Linked DNA regions of Homo sapiens. The protein of the gene in region 3 interacts with the protein of the main gene of each other region in a pairwise test. Each region holds a gene or a part of one and is shown on either strand. Other genes may lie near its edges.

What was found.
Region 1: the proteins of KIR2DL3 (region 3) and SLC38A7 interact in binary tests that used the Homo sapiens proteins (3 or more experiments, as listed by UniProt).
Region 2: the proteins of KIR2DL3 (region 3) and OLFM4 interact in binary tests that used the Homo sapiens proteins (3 or more experiments, as listed by UniProt).

The regions. Positions count from the first base shown.
Region 1 is NC_000016.10:58,667,771-58,674,797, forward strand, and holds part of SLC38A7 (sodium-coupled neutral amino acid transporter 7), read right to left. Parts: intron 4,474-7,027; coding exon 4,326-4,473; intron 3,475-4,325; coding exon 3,275-3,474; exon of another isoform or gene 3,100-3,274; intron 2,398-3,099; coding exon 2,343-2,397; intron 1-2,342. UniProt on the Homo sapiens protein: Symporter that selectively cotransports sodium ions and amino acids, such as L-glutamine and L-asparagine from the lysosome into the cytoplasm and may participates in mTORC1 activation. The transport activity requires an acidic lysosomal lumen.
Region 2 is NC_000013.11:53,031,786-53,038,812, forward strand, and holds part of OLFM4 (olfactomedin-4 precursor), read left to right. Parts: intron 1-2,562; coding exon 2,563-2,715; intron 2,716-7,027. UniProt on the Homo sapiens protein: May promote proliferation of pancreatic cancer cells by favoring the transition from the S to G2/M phase. In myeloid leukemic cell lines, inhibits cell growth and induces cell differentiation and apoptosis.
Region 3 is NC_000019.10:54,741,509-54,748,535, forward strand, and holds part of KIR2DL3 (killer cell immunoglobulin-like receptor 2DL3 precursor), read left to right. Parts: intron 1-471; coding exon 472-771; intron 772-2,286; coding exon 2,287-2,580; intron 2,581-5,826; coding exon 5,827-5,877; intron 5,878-7,027. UniProt on the Homo sapiens protein: Receptor on natural killer (NK) cells for HLA-C alleles (HLA-Cw1, HLA-Cw3 and HLA-Cw7). Inhibits the activity of NK cells thus preventing cell lysis.

The sequences.
Region 1 (7,027 bases), on a different chromosome or scaffold from region 3:
CACATGGAATGTGGTCTATTTCATTAAAAAAAGGAAACAAAAAGCAGACATCTGCAAATGTATGTACCAATTAACAGCAACAGGGATAAAACGGAATTGAAATAAAGGGTGATTTCCGGCCGGGTGTGGTGGCTCACACCTGTAATCCCAGCACTTTGGGAGGCCAAGGCGGGCAACCTGAGGTCAGGAGTTCGAGACCAGCCTGGGCAAGATGGCAAAACCCCATCTCTACTAAAAACAGAAAAATTAGGCTGGGTGCAGTGGCTCATGTCTGTAATTCCAGCACTTTGGGAGGCCGAGGCAGATGGATCACCTGAGGTCAGGAGTTCAAGACCAGCCTGGGCAAGATGGCGAAACCCCATCTCTACTAAAAATAGAAAAATTAGGCTGGGTGTGGTGGCTCATGTCTATAATCCCAGCACTTTGGGAGGCCAAGGCAGGTGGATCACCTGAGGTCAGGAGTTTGAGACCAGCCTGGCCAGCGTGGTGAAACCCCGTCTCTACTAAAAAAATACAAAAAATGGCTGGGTATGGTGGCTCACGCCTGTAATCCCAGAACTTTGGGAGGCCAAGGTGGGCGGATCACCTGAGGTCAGGAGTTCGAGATCAGCCTAGCCAACATGGTGAAACCCCGTCTCTACCAAAAATACAAAAATTAGCCAGGCATGGTGCTGCGCACCTGTAATCCCAGATACCCTGGAGGTTGCAGTGAGCCGAGATCATGCCACTGCACTCCAGCCTGGGTGACAGAGCGAGATTCCATCTCAAAACAACAACAACAAACCCAAAAAATTAGCTGGGTGTGGTGGTGGGCGCCTGTAATCCAAGCTACTCAGGAGGCTGAGGCAGGAGAATCGCTTGAACCCGGGAGGTGGAGGTTGTTGTAGTGAGCAGAGATCGCGCCATTGCACTCCAGCCTGGGCAACGAGTGAAACTCCATCTCAAAAAAAAAAAAAAAAAAAAAGACAAAAAAAAAAGAAATAAAGGGTGATTTTTTTTCTTCTTCTTCTTTTTCTTTTTTTGAGACAGAGTTTTGCTATCACCCAGGCTGGAGTGCAGTGGTGCGATCTCCACTTACTGCAACCTCCGCCTCCGGGGTTCAAGCAATTCTCCTACCTCAGCCTCCCGAGCTAGGACTACAGGCATGCGCCACCACAACCAGGTAATTTTTGTATTTTTAGTAAAGACGGGGTTTTGCCATGTTGGCCAGGCTGGTCTCGAACTCCTGACCTCAGGTGATCTGCCTGTCTTGGCCTCCCAAAGTGCTGGGATTACAGGCGTGAGTCACTGTGCCTGGCCAATTTTTTTTCTTTTTTAGACATGTTTGTATGGCTTTTTTTTTTTTTTTTTTTTTTTTTTTTTGAGACAGAGTTTCCCTCTTGTTGCCCAGGCTGGAGTGTAATGGTGTGATCTCGGCTCACTGCAACCTCCGCCTCCTGGGTTCAAGCAATTCTCCTGCCTCAGTCTCCCAAGTAGCTGGGATTACAGGCAGGTGCCACCATGCCCAGCTAATTTTGTATTTTTAGTAGAGATGGGGTTTCACCATGTTGGTCAGGCTGGTCTCGAACTCCTGACCTCGGGTGATCTGCCCATGTTGGCCTCCCAAAGTGCTGGGATTACAGGCATGAGCCAATGCACCTGGCTGAAACCACTTTTCATAAAACAAAACAAGAGCCCTGCATCTATGTATACATCTCCATAGCTATGTGTACACAGACACGCACACATGTACAGAAGTGGTTGAGGACACAGACCATACTGGTAACATGGAGCTATCTCAGAAAGGATGTGGGGGCGAGTGGGTTGTGGGGGAAGAGGGACTTCCATCTTTTTGTATTAAGCCCTTTATTAATGTTTAAATTGTTAACAACTAGCACACTACCGAATTTTTAAAAGTATTAAAAAAAAAACAACAACAACCTGGCTGGGTGTGGTGGCTCACGCCTGTAATGCCAGCACTTTGGGAGGCCGAGGAAGGAGGATCACCTAAGGTCAGGAGTTCGAGACCGGCCTGGCCAACATGGTGAAACCTCGTCTCTACTAAAAATACAAAAATTAGCTGGGTGTGGTGGCAGGCATCTGTAGTCCTAGCTACTCGGGAGGCTGAGGCACGAGAATGGTGTGAACCCAGGAGGCGGAGCTTGCAGTGAGCTGAGATCGTGCCACTGCACTCCAGGCTGGGCGACACAGCGAGACTCCGGCTCAAAAAAAAAAAAACAAAACAAAAACCCATGATTTCTAAGTACACAAGCCTCTGACTCCTATCTGTTTTAAGGCCCCCACAAAGCCACATTCCAATCCAGCACCTCCCTGAGAGGATCAAGGGCTGGGTCCTGCTTTACCTGGCTGGTTTGACCTCTTCCATCTCAGAGAGTTTGGCTTGAATGAGGCACAGCCCTGAAAGAGAAGAAGTGGCCCTGAGCATTTGTGAGGGGAGAGGGCTCCCTCCCTCCTAGCCACCTCCTTTCCCAAGAAGCAGTGCTGGATGGAGAAAGGCCCATGTTTACTCTTCTAGAAATTCCATCTCTGCCCCCACACCACATCCTGCTGGGGTCATCTGGCATCTGCTCTCCCATGACAGGCTGGCATCTGACAAGACCCCTTGGGCAGCATGCTAGACTCAGCTAAAGGGACAGCACTCAATGGTGACTCAGTGGTGGCCCAACCCCAGGGGTCTTCCTAGTACACTTCCCAGCAGATCTGGCTCCCCTGCTCCAAGCAAAGCAGCTGGGGCTTTCAGGGTGGCTTCCTGGATAGAGACAAGCTGGAAAAGGGTGGAACTCATGGCTGGGCAGACAGGACAGTTCTCCAGGGATCTGGCGGTAGATCTGTGTCTGGAACCCAGGTTCCCTGATGTCTGTGTCAGGGTGCCACCCCAGACCCCACTGCCCTCTGGGCTGTAATGGGCTGAACCAGCCAGATAGATCCCTCATAGTCAAGGAGCAGCAGACACCTGAATGAATGGTTAAAAGAATAGACTCTGGACCCAGACAGCGTGGGATGGAAAAGGTTACTAGTTGAGTTTGTTAAGCTCTAGGCAAGTCTGTGACCCTTTCTGAGCCCCACGTGCCATCAGTAAACTGGAGATCACAACTATACCTTCTTTCCAGGAGATAATGCTTGGATAGGGGCTAGTACAGAGGCGAGACAGGTGATCAATTAGTGCTGGTGGTTACTCTCTCCTGCATGTTTTGAGCAAGTAGGGAGCTGAGGCTAGGCAGGCCCTGGGAGTCTGTGCTGTGGGGCTGTGAGATGGGGCGCCAGGGGTCCGCACCTGGGAAGACGAAGATGAAGCAGGCGGCCAGGCCTCCAATGACTGAGATCACCTTGCCGATGTCAGGGATGAAGAGCGCCAGCAGCAGGGTGAGCAGGAACCAGACCAGCGTCTGCAGCACTCGCCGCCGCCGCTCCCGCCCCACGTCCTCCTCCACTGGCACCCCCTGGTAGCGCAGCCACAGGCCTTCCACCACCGCCCTGCCCACATGGAGAAGGGCTTAGAGGTGCCCCTGCTGCTAGCAGCTCCCCACCTCTAGCTCACAGGAGCCAGACCCCTAACTGGGTAGACTGCGGGGAAAGCCCCATTCCTGACCCTCAGTTTCCTCTTCTGTAAAATGGGCCACCAGCACTCTGTTTACCACAGGGACTAGAGACGGTGAATGTCGAGAGCTTAGCACTTTGCTTTACATCACATGGAAACTGATATTGTTTTTTCCTTAAAAGGAACTGTCTGGGGCATCCAAAGGGGAGGGTGTCCATGTGAAAGCTCAGGAAAGGATCTGGATAGAGATTCTTTTGTTTTTTGTTTTTTTGAGACAGGGTCTGGCTCTCTCACCCAGGCTGGAGTGCAGTGGTGCAATCTTGGCTCACTGCAGCCTTGAACTCCTGGGCTCCAGCCATCCTTCTGCCTCAGCCTCCCAAGTGGCTGAGTAGCTGGGACCACAGGTGCATCCCACCACACCTGGCTATTTATTTTATTTTGTGTAGAGATGGGGTCTCACTAGGTTGCCCAGGTGGTCTTGAACTCCCAGGCTCAAGCGATCCTTCTGCCTCAGCCTCCCAAAGTGCTGGGTTTAGAGACGTGAGCCACCGTGCCATGCCATGGATAGAGATTCTTACAGGACTCACGGAATGTTCTGGTGACCCCAGGACAAAGGGCGCTTCTGACACCTGGCCTGGGATATGTAGGGACCCATCCTAGGCACCGACTCTTTTCTACAGGCTTCAGTTTCTCCTTCTACAGGATGGGGTCCACACAAGGCCAAAGGACCATGTTGGAAGCGCTCACAGGGGCTAGGAGGGGCCCTGGGGAGTGGAAGGGGGCTCACCGCCCACAGAAGTGCAGGATAGGGTAGGAGGTGAGCACGCTCAGGATGATGAAGGCTCGGGCAACGGCCACGGCCATGTCCTCCGAGGGATAGGACAGGAGCACGTCAGGATCCACAGCAGCTCCAAAGGTCAGGAAGCCACAGATGCCTGTGGGCAGGGACAACTGGGTCAGGGCAACCCTGGGAGGGTAGTGGGGTGGACTGTCCACTCCTCCTAGGAGCAACATCAGCCTGGAGGCTGCAGCAGCAGCTCTGGACACTTAGACGGAGGCTCAGAGTGGGAGATGGGGCTCCGATCAGATGCCTCCCTCCCTGACTTCTCAGATCCCCCATCGCTGGAAGCCCTCCAGCCCCCAGCTTTCTGAGCCTGAACTTGCCCAGCACATTCCCACCTCAGTGCCTTGGCACTGACTGTTCTGTCTGGCAGACCTTCAGATGCCATCTCCTTATCATTTGGGTCTCAGTTTAGATGTCCTTCCTCAGAGAATGCTTCCTGCCAGTCCATCTACAATGACCCCCACCCCAGGCACTCTCTCACATCACGCTGTCTTATTTTTCTTTTCTTTTTTGAGACAGAGTCTTGCCCTGTTACCCAGACTAGAGCGCAGTAGTGTGATCATGGCTCACTGCAGCCTTGACCTCCTCGGCTCAAGCGATTCTCCCACCTGAGCCTCCCAGGTAGCTAGGACTACAGGCAGATGCCACCACACCCAGCTAATTTTCTTGTAGAGATGGGGTCTTGCTACGTTTCCCAGTCTGGTCTTGAACTCCTGGGCTCAAGTAATCCTCCTACCTCACCCTCCCAGAGTGTGAGCCACTACACCCAGCCTTCTTCTTTTTTATTTTTTTGAGATGGAGTTTCACTCTTGTTGCCCAGGCTGGCACGCGGTGGCACGATCTCGGCTCAGTGCAGCCTCCACTTCCCAGGTTCAAGTGATTCTCCTGCCTCAGCCTCCTGAGTAGCTGGGATTACACCATGCCCGGCTAATTTTTTTTTTTTTTTTTTTTTTTTTTTTTGAGATGGAGTCGCGCTCTGTCATGCCCAGGCTGGAGTACAATGGCATGATCTTGGTCTCCTGGGTTCTCATGCCTCAGCCTCCTAAGCAGCTGGGATTACAGTCACCTGCCGCCACACCTGGCTAATTTTTTTTTTTTTTTGAGATGGAGTTTTGCTCTTTCACCCAGGCTGGAATGCAGTGGTGCGATTTCAGCTTACTGCCACCTCTGCCTTCTGGTTTTAAGTGATTCTCCTGCCACAGACTCCCGAGTAGCTGGGATTACAGGCGCCCGCCACCAAGCCTGACTAATTTTTGTATTTTTAGTAGAAATGAGGTTTCACTATGTTGGCCAGGCTGGTCTCGAACTCCTGACCTCGTCATCCGCCTGCCTCGGGAAGTGCTGGGATTACAGGCGTGAGCCACCACGCCCAGCCCTAATTTTTTTATTTTTAGTAAGATGGGGTTTCGCCATGTTGGTTGGGCTGGTCTCGAACTCCTGACCTCATGTGATCTGCCTGCCTGGGCCTCCCAAAGTGCTGGGATCACAGGCGTGAGCCCCAGTGCCTGGCCGTTTTTTTTTTTTTTTTTAAAGACAGGATCTTGCTCTGTCACTCAGGCTGGAGTGAAGTGGTACAATCATAGTTCCACTGTAGTCTTGAATTCTTAGACTCAAGTTCCTCCTGACTTGGCCTCCCAAGTCACTGGGACTACAGGCACATGCCACCATGCCTGGCTAATTTTTTTTTTTTGAAGACAGAGTCTCACTTTCTCCCCCAGGCTGGAGTGCAGCGGCGCGATCTTGGCTCACTGCAACCTCGGCCTCCCAGGTTCAAGTGATTCTCATGCCTTAGCCTCCCGAGTAGCTGGGATTACAGGCACCACCACCACGCCCGGCTAATTTTTGTAATTTTGATAGAGACAGGGTTTTGCCATGTTGGCCAGGCTGGTCTCGAACTCCTGGCCTCAAGTGATTCACCCACCTTGGCCTCTCAAAGTCCTGGGATTACAGGCGTGAGCCACCATGCCTGGCGGACGCCCAGCTAATTCTTTAATTTTTGTAGAGATGAGTCTCACTATGTTGCCGAGGCTGGTCTTGAACTCCTGGCCTCAAGCGGTTCTCCCATCTCAGCTTTTCAAAGTGTTGGGATTACAGGCATGATCCACTGGGCCTGTCCCCTAACACTCATTTCTCTCTTTTTTAGAGACAGGGTCTCACTCTGTTGCCCAGTTTGGAGTGTAATGGCATGATCATGGGTCTCTACAGCCTTGATCTCATAGGCTCAAGCGATCCTCCCACCTCAGCCTCCCAAGTAGCTGGGTCCACAGGTGCATGTTACCATAACCTGGCTAATTTTTAAATTTTTTGTAGAGATGGAGTTTCACCATGTTGCCCAGCCTGTCTTGAACTCCTGGGCTCCAGAGAACCTCCCACCTTGGCCTCCCATAGCTGAGATTATAGGTGTGAGCCACTGTGACTGGCCTCATCGCTTTCTAATTTTTTTTTAACTGTACTATCACACTGGTCTTTAAGTAAACAATAATACAAATAAAAATAATAACAATAATAATAGTAATTAATTTTTACAGGCTTATTTTCTGTCTCCCCAGCCAGGACATGAGCCCCAGGAGAATAGGGATTTGGCTGTTTGCCTCTCTTGTTCCTGGCTGTGTATTCAGAGGCTAGAACAGTATTGGCCCAGGCAG
Region 2 (7,027 bases), on a different chromosome or scaffold from region 3:
CTACCAATATAAGGTGTCTTGTGAGGTACTCAGGGTCCTATTTGCCCTACAGAAGGGGAATCGCATATTCTTCCAAAGGCCAAGGGGACAAGCTCTTGTCTTTGTCTCCCATCCCCCATGCTTCATTCATGTAGAGTTTGGGCATTCACCGCAGAGAGAGACTCATCACCATTAGCTTCATTGTCTTTGAATGCGAGGAGCAGAAATATCTCTAATGGGAGACACTGATCAAACTTATGGACCATTTTGATGTCAGCTGAGCATGCTGGGCTGATGATAAGCAGGATGGAAGCTGGGGGAGTCCACAGCTTTGGGACAGAGATGTTCAATAGAAACCGATGGAATGGCTGACAGCAGGGCTCATAATTACTTGTCTGTCTTTCAAGTGAACTTCAGGACTAAAAGTTGTTAGCTAGTGGTTCCTAATTGACTGTCTAGAGATTGCTTGATGATATCCACTGTTTTCTGAGTTGGCAGAATTTTTCAGAGAACTCTGAGAATGGCCCAACCCTGTTTGTGCAGCTAATTAAACTCCCCTTGTTAAAATGCAATGCAAGATTTTTTTTTTGCTAGACTGTTATTATAATAAGCTATTTCTTCAAAAGTCCTTGATATGTCGGTCTTTTCTGTAAAAGCCTTGGCATGCTTGAGTTGGAGTCTTTCTATCTTTGGAGAAATGAGTAAAGCTGGTTTCAAGGGAAGCTGGCCTCTCTGATAGGTTCCTGGTGTATCTTACCGAGTCTTTATTCATCTCTGGCAAAGACCCTTCCCCTATTCAAACCCTGCTGTCCACCCCTATGTTCGACATAAATCTGCTTGTTTCTCCTCCCTACTCCTGAACTGTTTCCCACGTAGGGATGTGATTGGAAAAGAAAATTGAGACCAAGGTAATAAATTTTGACTAAACACATAAAAAATATGATTGGATACACACACATATTTTTTTTTTCTGCTCATCTTGAAACTTAAATTAAATTAAAAACAACTTAGATGCAAAAGCCTTGATTGGCCCCGAGGCCAGTGATAAAATAAGTCTTCATTATAGAAGCATCTAGACCCAGCTTGATCAGGCATTATGGAGGTTGGTGGCCATTAAATGCACAGGACCCATTACACCACCTGCAGCTGGCTGACCTGAACTTTGAGAGACATGGCCAGAGTCACTTCTGGCTCTGAAGACCATTGCTGTCTCCTTAGAGGTTTCATAAAAAGTCCCTTCAGGCTGATGTTCCACAGGTGAGCTTTGGGTTGGCTTTCAGATGAGATCATTAAAAGGCACAGCAAATTGGCTGCCAAGGGTTACTCTGTAAGGCAATAGTAGTAATAAAAAAATGTTAATTGTGCTGGGATCCTCTTGGGGAAGTTCAAAGGGGACAAAAGAAAAACAGGATCTTTCAAAAGTGTCATTTAAAAATATGCGGTGGCACTGAAGTGTGAGTCTGAATATCTTAAATGAACATAAAATATTTTAAAATGACTTTTTCTGCAAATGGTAAGCTGGAAAAAAACTTTTATTAAAAAAAATTGCACAAAACCTTCAAGCTCATACGCTATTCACTTTCTAACAAATGGCTGGTTCCCATTTTGAAGGATGTTAATTTGCAATTTCCCAGGCGATGAGAGGATATGAATTTGCATCATATATTTTCACTGTAGCCCACATCTTTGGTGATTCCCTCATTCTGATGAAAAGGAATTGGATTGGGTTGGGGTGAAGGTGAGGAAGAGAAAATGAGCAGTAGAAGGAAAGAGAATGTGACATTTTCAGATCACCTACTCTGTGCCAGGGACTTGGCTCACATTACTTCGTTAATACTGAGGACAACCCTGTGAAGTAGGTTATCTCTATTTTACAGATGAAGGAACTAAGAATTAAGGAGATTTCACATCTAGCAAGTGCTAGAATTGAAATTCAAACTTAGCACTCTCATAGCTTCTTTATTTCCCTTTCCTTGCATAGAGATAGGAATAATCTCCTTTAAGACTCCAGAATGGCCGGGCGCGGTGGCTCACGCCTGTAATCCCAGCACTTTGGGAGGCCGAGGTGGGTGGATCACGAGGTCAGGAGATCGAGACCACCCTGGCTAACACGGTGAAACTCCGTCTCTACTGAAAATACAAAAAATTAGCCAGGCGTGGTGGCGGGCTGTAGTCCCAGCTACTTGGGAGGCTGAGGCAGGAGCATAGAGTAAACCCGGGAGCCGGAGCTTGCAGTGAGCCGAGATCGCGCCACTGCACTCCAGCCTGGGCGACAGAGTGAGACTCCGTCTCAAAAAAAAAAAAAAAAAAAAAAAAAGCCTCGAGAATGGGGAATCTTCCTTTAGGTAAAGTCTGCTGGCGTAGTGGTTTTCGTACAACCAGTGGCGATGTGGCTAAACGCTGGGTGGTCCCCACCTGTGAAAACAAAGCTGTTTTAGCTTGTTTCTATGATTCTATTCATTTATGTATTGGACTCCACTTACTTGCCTGTAAGTACTCTCGACAAGCCAATTTCTGTCACTCCAGTTGCCAAAAGCTCAGATTCCAGCTTGTTATTGATGTTCAACTTGTTATTATTTGCAGTTGTTTTCCAATTTCACCGGCTCCGTGGATGACCGTGGGACCTGCCAGTGCTCTGTTTCCCTGCCAGACACCACCTTTCCCGTGGACAGAGTGGAACGCTTGGAATTCACAGCTCATGTTCTTTCTCAGAAGTTTGAGAAAGAACTTTCCAAAGTAAGCATTTTCTTTTCAAACAATATCTTGATAAAGAGAAACAAAACAAAATGTGTTTTAATTTAGGATTTTATAAGCAATCATTCTTCACTATCAAAGACATCACGTTTTTATTCTATGGTGATTTTAGTATTTATTTTATAGGACACCAATGGAGTTCTTATTAAGGCAGGGAAAATGAGAGCACAGGAAGAAAGTGGGGTTCAAATTGTTCACGCCGTGGATAAACTCACTATAGTATTGTGGTACTTAGGCAGTTGGAAAGAAGCCTTGAGCTCTCCTTGCAAACCCCAACCTGCAATTTTTATTTTGTTTTGACGCTGCTTCTTCCTTTTGGTCTTCTAGGTCTTTCCTCAAGCTTTGCTTTCTTTTCTTTCTTCTCCTCTATCCCCTTTAGTTCTATTCTATCTCCCTTCTCTTTTTCCTTTTCTTCTATTTCTATTCCATTCCTGCATCCTTTAGTTTCTTATTTCTCTTGCCTCAATCCTTGCCCTTATTCATCCCTTCTAATCTCTCTTTTCCTTTCCTGGTTAATTCTTTTTTGGGGGGGACATTTTTGGGTATTTTCTTACTTTTAGATGATCTTTTTTTCCCTCCTTCTTTTCCCTTCCTCCACTTCCACTCCTTCAAATCCTCTCCCTCTCATCCTCCTCCCTCCCTCTCTCTTTCCTTTAACCCTTTTTTATCTTTACAAATTGCTCACTTCCTTCTCTCTCCCCCTCACTCTCTTTTTTTGTGACAATAAGTTGTAGTCTCTTTTATTTTTTTCTATTTTCTCCAAGTGAAATCCAAGGTTGTAGTCTCTTTATTTTTAATCTTATTTTTTTTTGGTGTATAGTAGGTGTATGTATTAATGGGGTACATGAGATACCCTGAGACAGGCATGCAATGCGTAATAATCACATCATGGAAAATGGAGTGTCCATCCCCTCAAGCATTTATCTTTTGTGTTACAAACCATCCAATTAGACTCTTTTACTTATTTTAAAATGTACAATGAAATTATTATGGACTATAGTCACCCTGTTGTGCTGTTGAATACTAGGTCTTATTTATTCTTTCTAACTACTTTTATTTTTTACCCTTTAACTATCCCCACTTCCATCCTCACCCTCCATCTCTTTCTTGATGGTTATCTTCTATTGTCTCAGCAGGAACATTACATTTGATGTGTCCAATATTAGACAAAAATTGAAGGCTTCCCTGGGAATTTGAATCAAGACTAATAGGTTTCTCAGCCTTGGTAAAAACACTGACTTGAACTCTGATTACTGTTTTTTTCTTTAGCCAGAGGAAGTTATCTTAAAGGGTTTGCCTTTCTCTGGGCTGGCTGGAGCAATGTGACTTGGTGTTCTAGTTTTGACTCCTTCCACCTTTTCAGCCCAAGTTAAAAATCAATTAGAAAAGTTCCTATTTTCTGCACAGGTGAAGTCCAAGCTAGTCTATAATCACATTATGCATTATTTAATACAACTCCATTAATTTACAAGGAGCTCTGGCTTTACTGCAAGATTCAGAATAAGTTTTCCTAAGAAATTTGAGCTTTGCCACCTCAACATCCAACATAGTTATCCTTTAAAACAAAAATTATGATGAGGCTGAGACCCTACTTTCAGCCTGAATTGGTAGATAAATATTCTAAGTTTAAATGAGTGTCCAGGAAAATGTGTTTGACTACTCTAGAAACCTAGCTGCTTAAGAAATATAATGTCCTTGAATTAATCAGTGGAAAAGGCACAGCATTAAATTATAAATTCTAACCATTAATATTCATAGCCTTATTCCAGCATAATCAAGTACAGATAAGAAGTTATGCATAAAAACATAACAAGTAGAGGAAAATCCTAGGTAAAGATCTTTTCAGTTAGAGTCATTTGCTTTGAAATAGTGGAAACTACTGATTTACATGTTGTCTTTGCTGGCAGCAGTGTGAAAGGCAGTTTGAAACCTTATGTGCTCCAGGGAGAGTATGTGGCTTGCCAGGTTTGTGAATATGGGACATTTAATTCCAATACTGTACGGGGGGCTGGTAACATCTGCTTTGCTAATGACAGATAGGGAAGAAGTGCAGAATAGGTGGGAAAGTTTTAGTTCTGAATGTGTCGGTGGCTGCTCTGATCCCAAAAAAACTGTGATTGTGGCCTAAGAAAAAAGTTTATCTGCTAGCTAGGATTTATATAATCGATTTAGTGTGACAGGTGATAATAACAACAATAATAGTAGCAGTTTGTTTGTGCTTTTTCAAATGCTTCCAGTTCTATTCTCTCCTCTCAAGTAACCCTTTAAGGCAGATAGGCCAGGTGTTGTCTCTCCCATTTTAGAGACAGTAAAACTGCAGTTCATAAAGGTAAGGAGACTTGCCCAAGGTCATTCCTCTCTTGGCTGGTTAAGCCAGGTCAGAATTCGAGTCTTCAAAATCATCTCAACTCTCTTTCCTCTTGGCCATGCTGTTAGCATCCTCCAAGGTAGGCCCAGGAAGAGATGCAGTAGTAATGCCTTCAAATCCAAAGTTATCCCTTTAGCTGAGGGCTTTCGAATTTCCAAGTGAGTTATTACAGCTGTCCCTAGGTTGCCTTGAAAATTGTCATTTATCCGGGGGCCTGGGAGAATGCCCGTTTAGGACAGGCCAGTAGAAAAGGTTTTTGACTGCCTTACATTGATTCATTGTCTGTCAGTACACAGAGAAGACAGGGAGCTGCCTCTGCATAAGATGCTGAAAGCATTTTATACTTTTCTGTTGTTTACGGTATGTCCTTTTGTGACTATACTTAGGAAAGGGATGGCACAAAAGGCAGCTCAGGATTTTCTCTTTCTCTGGAGGCTTATGGTCTTTGGCATGAGTTATTTAATATGACACATTTGCTAGTAGATCCTCATGCACGGGAAGGTTGAGGCAGCCTAGGAGACATTAAGGCAACCCATAAAGAAATAACATTGATTGAGCCGTATTTGTATAGTGAAATATAATAAATTAAAAGGTCAGATTGGAAAATGCTGAAATTACTGTTTCTCTATTAATTTCTATAATTCATAGGGCCTCCATTAACTAGGCACTTAACGTACATTATCTCTAGTCTTTATGATAATCTTGTAAGCTCAGTATCATTACCCCCAGTTTACAGGAAACTAAGGGTTAAAGAAATTAAGTGATTTGCCCACTAAGTACTGAAGTTAGATTTGAGTCTAGTTGGGTCTAGCTCCAAAGTACTTTATATGTCTTTACAATCACTCCAGGCTCAATGAACCCTGTTACGTTTACTTTGAAACATATATTGAAAATAGTAGTATGTTGCAAAGTAAACGTACTTATTTCAAATAGTCTGGCCATAGTTATAATCACAGGTTTTGAGAGACTGGCAGAAACATGAACCAGATTAATTCTTTAGCTTGCTAGCACTACACCCTTATTTATTACAAGACCACATTAATTATAAGGAACAATAACAGGCACCCTCAAATCAACGCTCACACAAATTTTATTCCTCATCAATGATATAGTATGTGCATAACAAGCAAAATAAAATGGAAGCTGTGAATGTTAGGCTGGTGGCTTAAAGGCTCAACTAAAACATAGATGAGCCATCTAGTGCTCAGACTTGTCATGATGAGGAGCTTCGAGATAAAGATGTTGACACAGGACGTGTCTCCTCAAGGCTAGACCCATATTCTTGATAGAATGTTTAGCAGCGTCCCTGGTCTTTAGATGCCAATAGCACTCGCCCACCCCCCAGTTATGAGAACCAGGACAAAATCACCACCACTACCGCCCTCCCTCCATTTAGAACCACTTTTCTAGATCAAAATACAGCCATAGGTCAGCTAAAGACAGGGACATGTTCTGATAAATGCATCGTTAGGTGATTTTAACATTGGTGAACGTCATTGTATACTTACACAAACCTAGAGGGTGTAGCCAACTACACACTCAGGCTATATGATATAGCCTATTGCCAGGCTACAAACCTGTACAGCCTGTGACTGTACTGAATAATGTAGGCAATTATAATACAATGGTAAGTTTTTGTGTGTGCATATATATCTAAACATAGAAAAGGTACAGTAAAAATATGATATTTATAATCTCATGGGACCACTGTCATATATGCAGTCTGTCATAGACAAAAATGTTATGCAGCAAATGACTGTATTTTCCAGAAGAAGAAAAAAATGCAGAAAGTGCCCCAAGTGCCAGATGTGGGACTGGAGGCTCCCAGGCAGGCTGGGCTGCCTCTCCCAAGACTGCACCTCCCAGGAGGAGCTGACATGTGGTCAGCATTGTCCACGCATTCCCAAAGCTACAGATTCATATATG
Region 3 (7,027 bases):
AGGCACAGGCATGGCAAGAGTGGCTCCCAGTCCCCACCAGGAACAGGGTGTGTGGACACTGGTGCCTGCCTTATTCATCAGTTCATACCTTCTGCCAAGGATTGCAATTCATCCAAAAGAGATTGAACCAGGCTGATAAGAGCCTGGATGTGCAGCCTATCCTGGTTCCTCTTTCACCCCCACATAAACAGCAGGAAATACATTAGTGTGAAATAGATACAACACCCCAAGAGATGAGGCTCAGCCCAGTGGGAAGGGAATCAGAGGCTACTAGAGACAGAGGGACAGAGAAGAGGGAGGGAGACAGATGGAAGGACCTGCACCAGGAGTTAAGGGCACAGAAAAGAACATGAAGACACAGAGAGGAAGGAGAGAGACAGACACCAGCAAGGGGAAGCCTCACTCATTCTAGGTGCCATGGATGGGATGATAAAGAGAGACACCTTCTAAACTCACAACCTCTCTTCCTAGGAGTCCACAGAAAACCTTCCCTCCTGGCCCACCCAGGTCCCCTGGTGAAATCAGAAGAGACAGTCATCCTGCAATGTTGGTCAGATGTCAGGTTTCAGCACTTCCTTCTGCACAGAGAAGGGAAGTTTAAGGACACTTTGCACCTCATTGGAGAGCACCATGATGGGGTCTCCAAGGCCAACTTCTCCATCGGTCCCATGATGCAAGACCTTGCAGGGACCTACAGATGCTACGGTTCTGTTACTCACTCCCCCTATCAGTTGTCAGCTCCCAGTGACCCTCTGGACATCGTCATCACAGGTGAGAGTGTCCGGACATTCTCATTGTCATTGGGATGCAGAGTGAATGATCCACGACTTGGAACCCCCAGGTAGTTGTAAGGAAGATGAGCTTGGTATTCTTATGGAGAGAGACTGACTTGCTGAGGTTTGTACCAACAGAGACAGAGAAACAGGAGACACAAGTACAGACCAGGTGTCATAACAGAGGACAGACACAGGGGCCATACAGGGAGTTAGAAAAGACAGAAAGAGTTAAAAGAGACAGACAGACAGACATGTCCCAGAGAGAGGTGTCCCTCCATGCTGACTTTGCTCACAGACCTGGCACAGGTTAGAAGTTTCATTTCTGTTTTACCTCCACAAAGTGTTCTCTACCAGGAGAACCCAAGGACACCCATATTTATGACCTGAGTTGGGCCCTGTGGCCTCAGGCCTTGTGGCACCTACAGGCCATGTTTATTCTGACACCTCTGCCTTCCATGTAATGGAGAGTAATCGTCCCAGGATATCATGGCCCCAGAACACCAACCCCTGTATGCTGTGTGAACTTGTGGTCTCCAGACTGGATTCTGTGGCTCACATTCCAAATAACCCCACATATGAAAGGATCACTGAGAGGCACAGAGAAAAATCAGGAACACCAAAAAGCAAAGACATAAACACACAGAGAATGAGCCAGAGGAAGGAGATTGAGAGACTCACAGACACATAAAGAGAGAGAAAAGAGGGCAGAGGAGTGGTGAGAATGATGGCAGGGAGCAGAGAAAAGCACTAAAATTAGAGTCCTGAGAGAGAGGCACAAGGACATAGAAACATGGAGATGTGGGGATGAATTGCAGAGATTCCAAAGAGAACTAGAGAGACCGAGAGGCAGAGCAAGACAGATGATAGATGGATAGATATAGATAGATGATAAATAGGTAGATGATAGATAATAGGTTAAAGATACATAGATGATGATTGATTGATTCATTAATAGATAATACATAGAGATGATGATGATGAAGACAGATAATACGTACAGATAGAGAGGCAGACAGAAATCATAGAGAGAGAGATGATACATACATATAAATAACAGATGATTGATGGATAGATAGACAAGTGATAGATACATAGATGATATATAGATATAGATGACAGGTAGAGAATTTGTAGATAGGCACCGAATAGATAAATAGATAGATCGACAGATAATAGATAGAAATATGCAGAAAGTTATGAACAGGACACAACGTGAGAAACTTAGAATTTAAAAAAGTAACATCAAGTCAACCAATCCAAGGAGAGTCAGAGAGAATAAAAGAATCCAAAAAGGGAAAACATATCTAGAGGTGGGGAAGCGAGGTCAGAGACCTAGAGAGACAGAGAAGGTGGAAGAAGGAAATAGACATGAAGAGAGATGGGGTGGAGGGTGAGAGAGAGAGAGAGAGAGAGCATTAGGTCATAGAGCAGGGGAGTGAGTTCTCAGCTCAGGTGAAGGGAGCTGTGACAAGGAAGATCCTCCGTAAGGAAAATGCCTCTTCTCCTCCAGGTCTATATGAGAAACCTTCTCTCTCAGCCCAGCCGGGCCCCACGGTTCTGGCAGGAGAGAGCGTGACCTTGTCCTGCAGCTCCCGGAGCTCCTATGACATGTACCATCTATCCAGGGAGGGGGAGGCCCATGAACGTAGGTTCTCTGCAGGGCCCAAGGTCAACGGAACATTCCAGGCCGACTTTCCTCTGGGCCCTGCCACCCACGGAGGAACCTACAGATGCTTCGGCTCTTTCCGTGACTCTCCATACGAGTGGTCAAACTCGAGTGACCCACTGCTTGTTTCTGTCACAGGTGAGGAAACCCCATATCTGTCTCATGTCCTATGATCCTAGAGCCTTAGCTGAGGAGCTTCCTGCTGATGATGGAGAGAAGCATGGACAGATGCAGAGAGAAGACGAAGCTTGGGTGTGAGGGAGGGATCAGGGCACAGGATGGCAGACAGGGCACCTCCAAACCCTCCTACACGGCCTGCATGAAGGCCCGCGGCCAGGGCTCCAGGCACACAGGCAGATGGAGAAAACGGTCAGGAGAGACCCAGAGGAGAGAGACTGGGCTCAGTTTGGGAAGATCAGAGGTTCCCTCAGCCCCTCAACATTACCCATTTCCCAGAAGCCCATCCTGGCCTCTCACCCACACAGGGATGTCATCACCAGCAACCCCTACACCCTTTACTTTTGTTTGAAGAAATATTTATTGAGGATAAATATACCTATATAGCTTACCACCTTTAACATTTTTTTTTTTTTTGAGGCAGAGTCTAGCTCTGTCCCCTATGCTGGAGTGCAGTGGCACAATCTCAGCTCACTGCAACTTCCGCCTCCTGGGTTCAAGTGATTCTCCTGCTTCAGCCACCTGAGTAGCTGGTGCTACAGGCGCGCACCACCACGCCAGGCTACTTTTTGTATTTTTAGTAGAGAGGGGGTTTCACCATGTTGGTCGAGCTGGTCTCCAACTCCTGACCACGTGATCCACCCGCATCTGCCTCCCAAAGTGCTGGGATTACAGGCATGAGCCACCACGCCCAGCCACATTTACCATTTTTAAGTGTAAAGTCTAGTGGTCATAAATACATTTATATATATATATATATATATATATATACACACACACACACATATATAAACATATATATATATATATATATATATATATATATATTTTTTTTTTTTTTTTTTTTTTTACCCTCCACCCTTTTATTCCTGGCCTCTGGAAGCCACCATTCTACTCTCTACCTTCATGAGATCCACCTTTTAGCTCTGTATATGGGTGAGAAATGGGAATCTTTGTAATGACTTCCAGTTCCATCCATGTGGCTGCAAATATCAGGATGTTATTCTTTCTATGGATGAGTAGTCTCCACTGTGCGTATGTACTACATTCTCTCTATCCATTCATCCACTGATGGGCAGGTAGGTTGACTCCACATCTTGGCTACTGTGAACAGTGCTGCACCAATCATACGAGTGCAGATATCACTTCGATATATTGATTTACTTTCCTTTGGATATAAACCCAGTAGTGAAATTGCTGGATACTATGAAAGTTCTCTTTTTAGTTATTCGTTTGTTGTTTTGTTTTTGTTTTTGAGACAGTTTCCCTCTGTGCCCAGGCTGGAGTACAAGTGAAGTCATCTTGGCTCATTGCAACCTCCGCCTCCTGGGTTCAAATGATTTTCCTGCCTCAGCCTCCCTAGTAGCTGGGATTACAGGTGCACGCCACCATGCCTGGCTACTTTTTGTTTTTTTTAGTATAGATGGGGTTTCCCCATGTTGGCTGGGCTGCTCTCAAACTCATGACCTCAACTGAGGTGCCCGCCTCGGTCTCCCAAAGTGCCGGGATTACAGGCATGATCCACCTCACCCAACCTCTTTTTAGTTCTTTAAAGGACTTCCACACTTTTCTCCGTAAAGGCTGTACTAATTTACACTCCTACCAACAGGGTATTAGGGTTCTCCTTTCTCTACCACTTTGGCAGGATTTCCTTTGCCTGTCTTGCAGCTAAAAGCCATTTTATTTTATTTCATTTTATTTTGAGATGGAGTTTCGCTCTTGTCACCCAGGCTGGAGTGCAGTGGTGCGATCTCGGCTCACCACAACCTCCACCTCCCAGGTTCAAGCGATTCTCCTGCCTCAGCCTCCCGAGTAGCTGGAATTACAGGCACACGCCACCACGCCCAACTAAATTTTGTATTTTTAGTAGAGACAGTGTTTCTTCATGTGGGTCAGACTGGTCTCAAACTCCCGACCTTATGAGGTTCACCCACCTCAGGCTCTCAAAGGTCTAGGATGACAGACGTGAGCCACCACGCCCGGCCTAAAATCCATTTTAATGGGGTGAGATGAAAACTCACTTTGATTTTAATTTGTGTTTCTCTGATGATGAGTGAAACTGAGCACTTTTTAGTATGTGGGGAAATTTCATGTGTTTTGCTCCTTTTTCAATTAAATCGTTTGTTTTATTGAGTTGTTTGAGCTTCTTATATTTCTAGTTATTAATCCCATCTCAGATGCATAGTTTGCACATATTTGCTCCCAATCTGTGGGTTGTCTCTTCACTTTGTTGGTTTATTTTTAGCGGTGCAGAAGTTGCTTAGTTTGAGGTAATCCCAATGGTCTATTTTTGCTTCGATTACTTGTGTTTTGAAGGTTTAAAACAAAATGTCTTCCTTCAGACAAATGTCCTGGAGCATTTCCCCAATATTTTCTTCTACGTGTTTCATAGGTTCAGGCCTTAGACTCACATCTTTAATCCATTTTCATTTGAGTTTTGTGTATAGTGACAGGTAGAGGTGCAGTTTCATTCCTCTGCATGTAGATGTCCAGGTTTCCCTGCACTGTTTATTGAAAAGACTGTCCTTTCCTGATTGTGAGTTCTTGGCACCTTTGTCAAAGTCCATTGGATGGGCTGGGCATGGTGGCTGACACCTGCAATTTCAGCACTTTGGGAGCCCAAGGCGGGTGGATCACCTGAGGCCAGGAGTTCAAGATTAGTCTGGCCGACGTGATGAAACATTGTCTCCACTAAAAATATAAAAATTAGCTGAGCATGGTGGTCAGCACCTGTAATACCACTACTCAGGAGTTTGAGGCCAGAGAATTGATTGAACCCAGGAGGCTGTGGTGGCAGTGAACCGAGATTGCACCTCTGCACTCCAGCCTGGGTGACAGAGCGAGACTCCATCTCAAAAGAAAAAAGAAAAAAACATTGGAGGTAAATGCATGGATTATATCTGTGTTCTTCATTCTGCTCCATTGTTCTACGTGCCTTTCTTTATGCCAATGTGATGCTGTTTTGCTTACTACAGCTCTGTAACATATTTTGAGATCAGGTAGTGTGATGCTCCTGTTTTCTCTTTATACCTTGAAGTCTCAAGACAGTGGGCGTCACATACAAAAATTACGGAAAAAAGGATCCCAGGACTCCCAGGGCCCAATATTAGATAACAGAGTGTTGGCCATGAACCAACCTCAAAGATTTCCATTGAGTAGAGGACAGACACCCTCATTTCCTCACCTCTCTCCTGTCTCGTGTTCTAGGAAACCCTTCAAATAGTTGGCCTTCACCCACTGAACCAAGCTCCGAAACCGGTGAGTACAGAACCCTCTTATATCCGCTTTTGGAAACCTGGGGAGGTAGAAACCTTCGATGCAGGCATTGACTCAGCATCTCGCAGCTCTGACATTGTACGCCTGTCTTCTACCATCTCCGAACTCCAGATACTCCAACAGCGAAAGGGATCTGGGCCCAACCTAGGGCTCAGTGAAATCTCTTAATCTCTCATTTTATGGAGCTGAGACCTCCTACAAGCTAGAAGAATGATTGCCAATCTGACATCCTTCTCAGGAAAAATGCAATGTTTGTTCTGCCTGCATTCCTAACTGGAGGATAAATTCCTGGGGGCTTGAGAGAGGGAAGGGAAGGGAACATCTGATGAGGGCGAGGTGTTTTAGAGAAGTTCCACTTGCCAAGGAATGAATTACTGTTGGTCATGAAGCAACCCTGGCTGACTCAGCAGAGCAACAGCCTTGCCGTAACAGAGAACGGAGCTCATGCACGCACACTTCGACTCACTGACTCATTCAGCCACGGCCCCATGCTCAGGCTGTGCAGTGCGGAACCTTTTCCTATTGTTGCCATAACAAATTTCCACAAGATTCGTGGGTGAAAACAAAACGGTTTTTTAATTATCTTACAGTGCTGTAGCTCAAAGTAGGAAGTGCATCTTACTGGGCTAAAATCAAGGTGACAGCAAGGCTGCCTTCCCTCTGAGGATTCCAGGCAAGAATCTGCTTCTCACTTATCCCAGCTTCTAAAGGCTCCCAGTTCCTTGGCTCCTGTTCCCCTTCCTCCTTCCTCAAAGCCCACAAAGACTGGTCACATCTCACATGGCATCACTCAGTGCCTTCTTCCTTACCACACCTCTTTCTCTGAATGCTGCTCTCCCTTCTTCCTTATCTTTTGAAAACTTGGGGATTCTATTGGGTTCACCAAGATGAAAATCCCTCATAATCTCCTGGAAATCATCCAGGATACCCTTGTTTTAAGTTCAGCTGATTAGCAACCGCAATTCCATCTACAATCTTCATTCCTCCTTTCCATGTAAAATAACATATTCACAAGCTATGGAGGCTAGGACAGGGACATTTTGGGGTGGGACAGCATTCTCCTGCCTTCCACAAACGGTGAACAAGATGCATTTGGCTTCTGCCCTTGGGACACTGATATTGCAGATGGTTA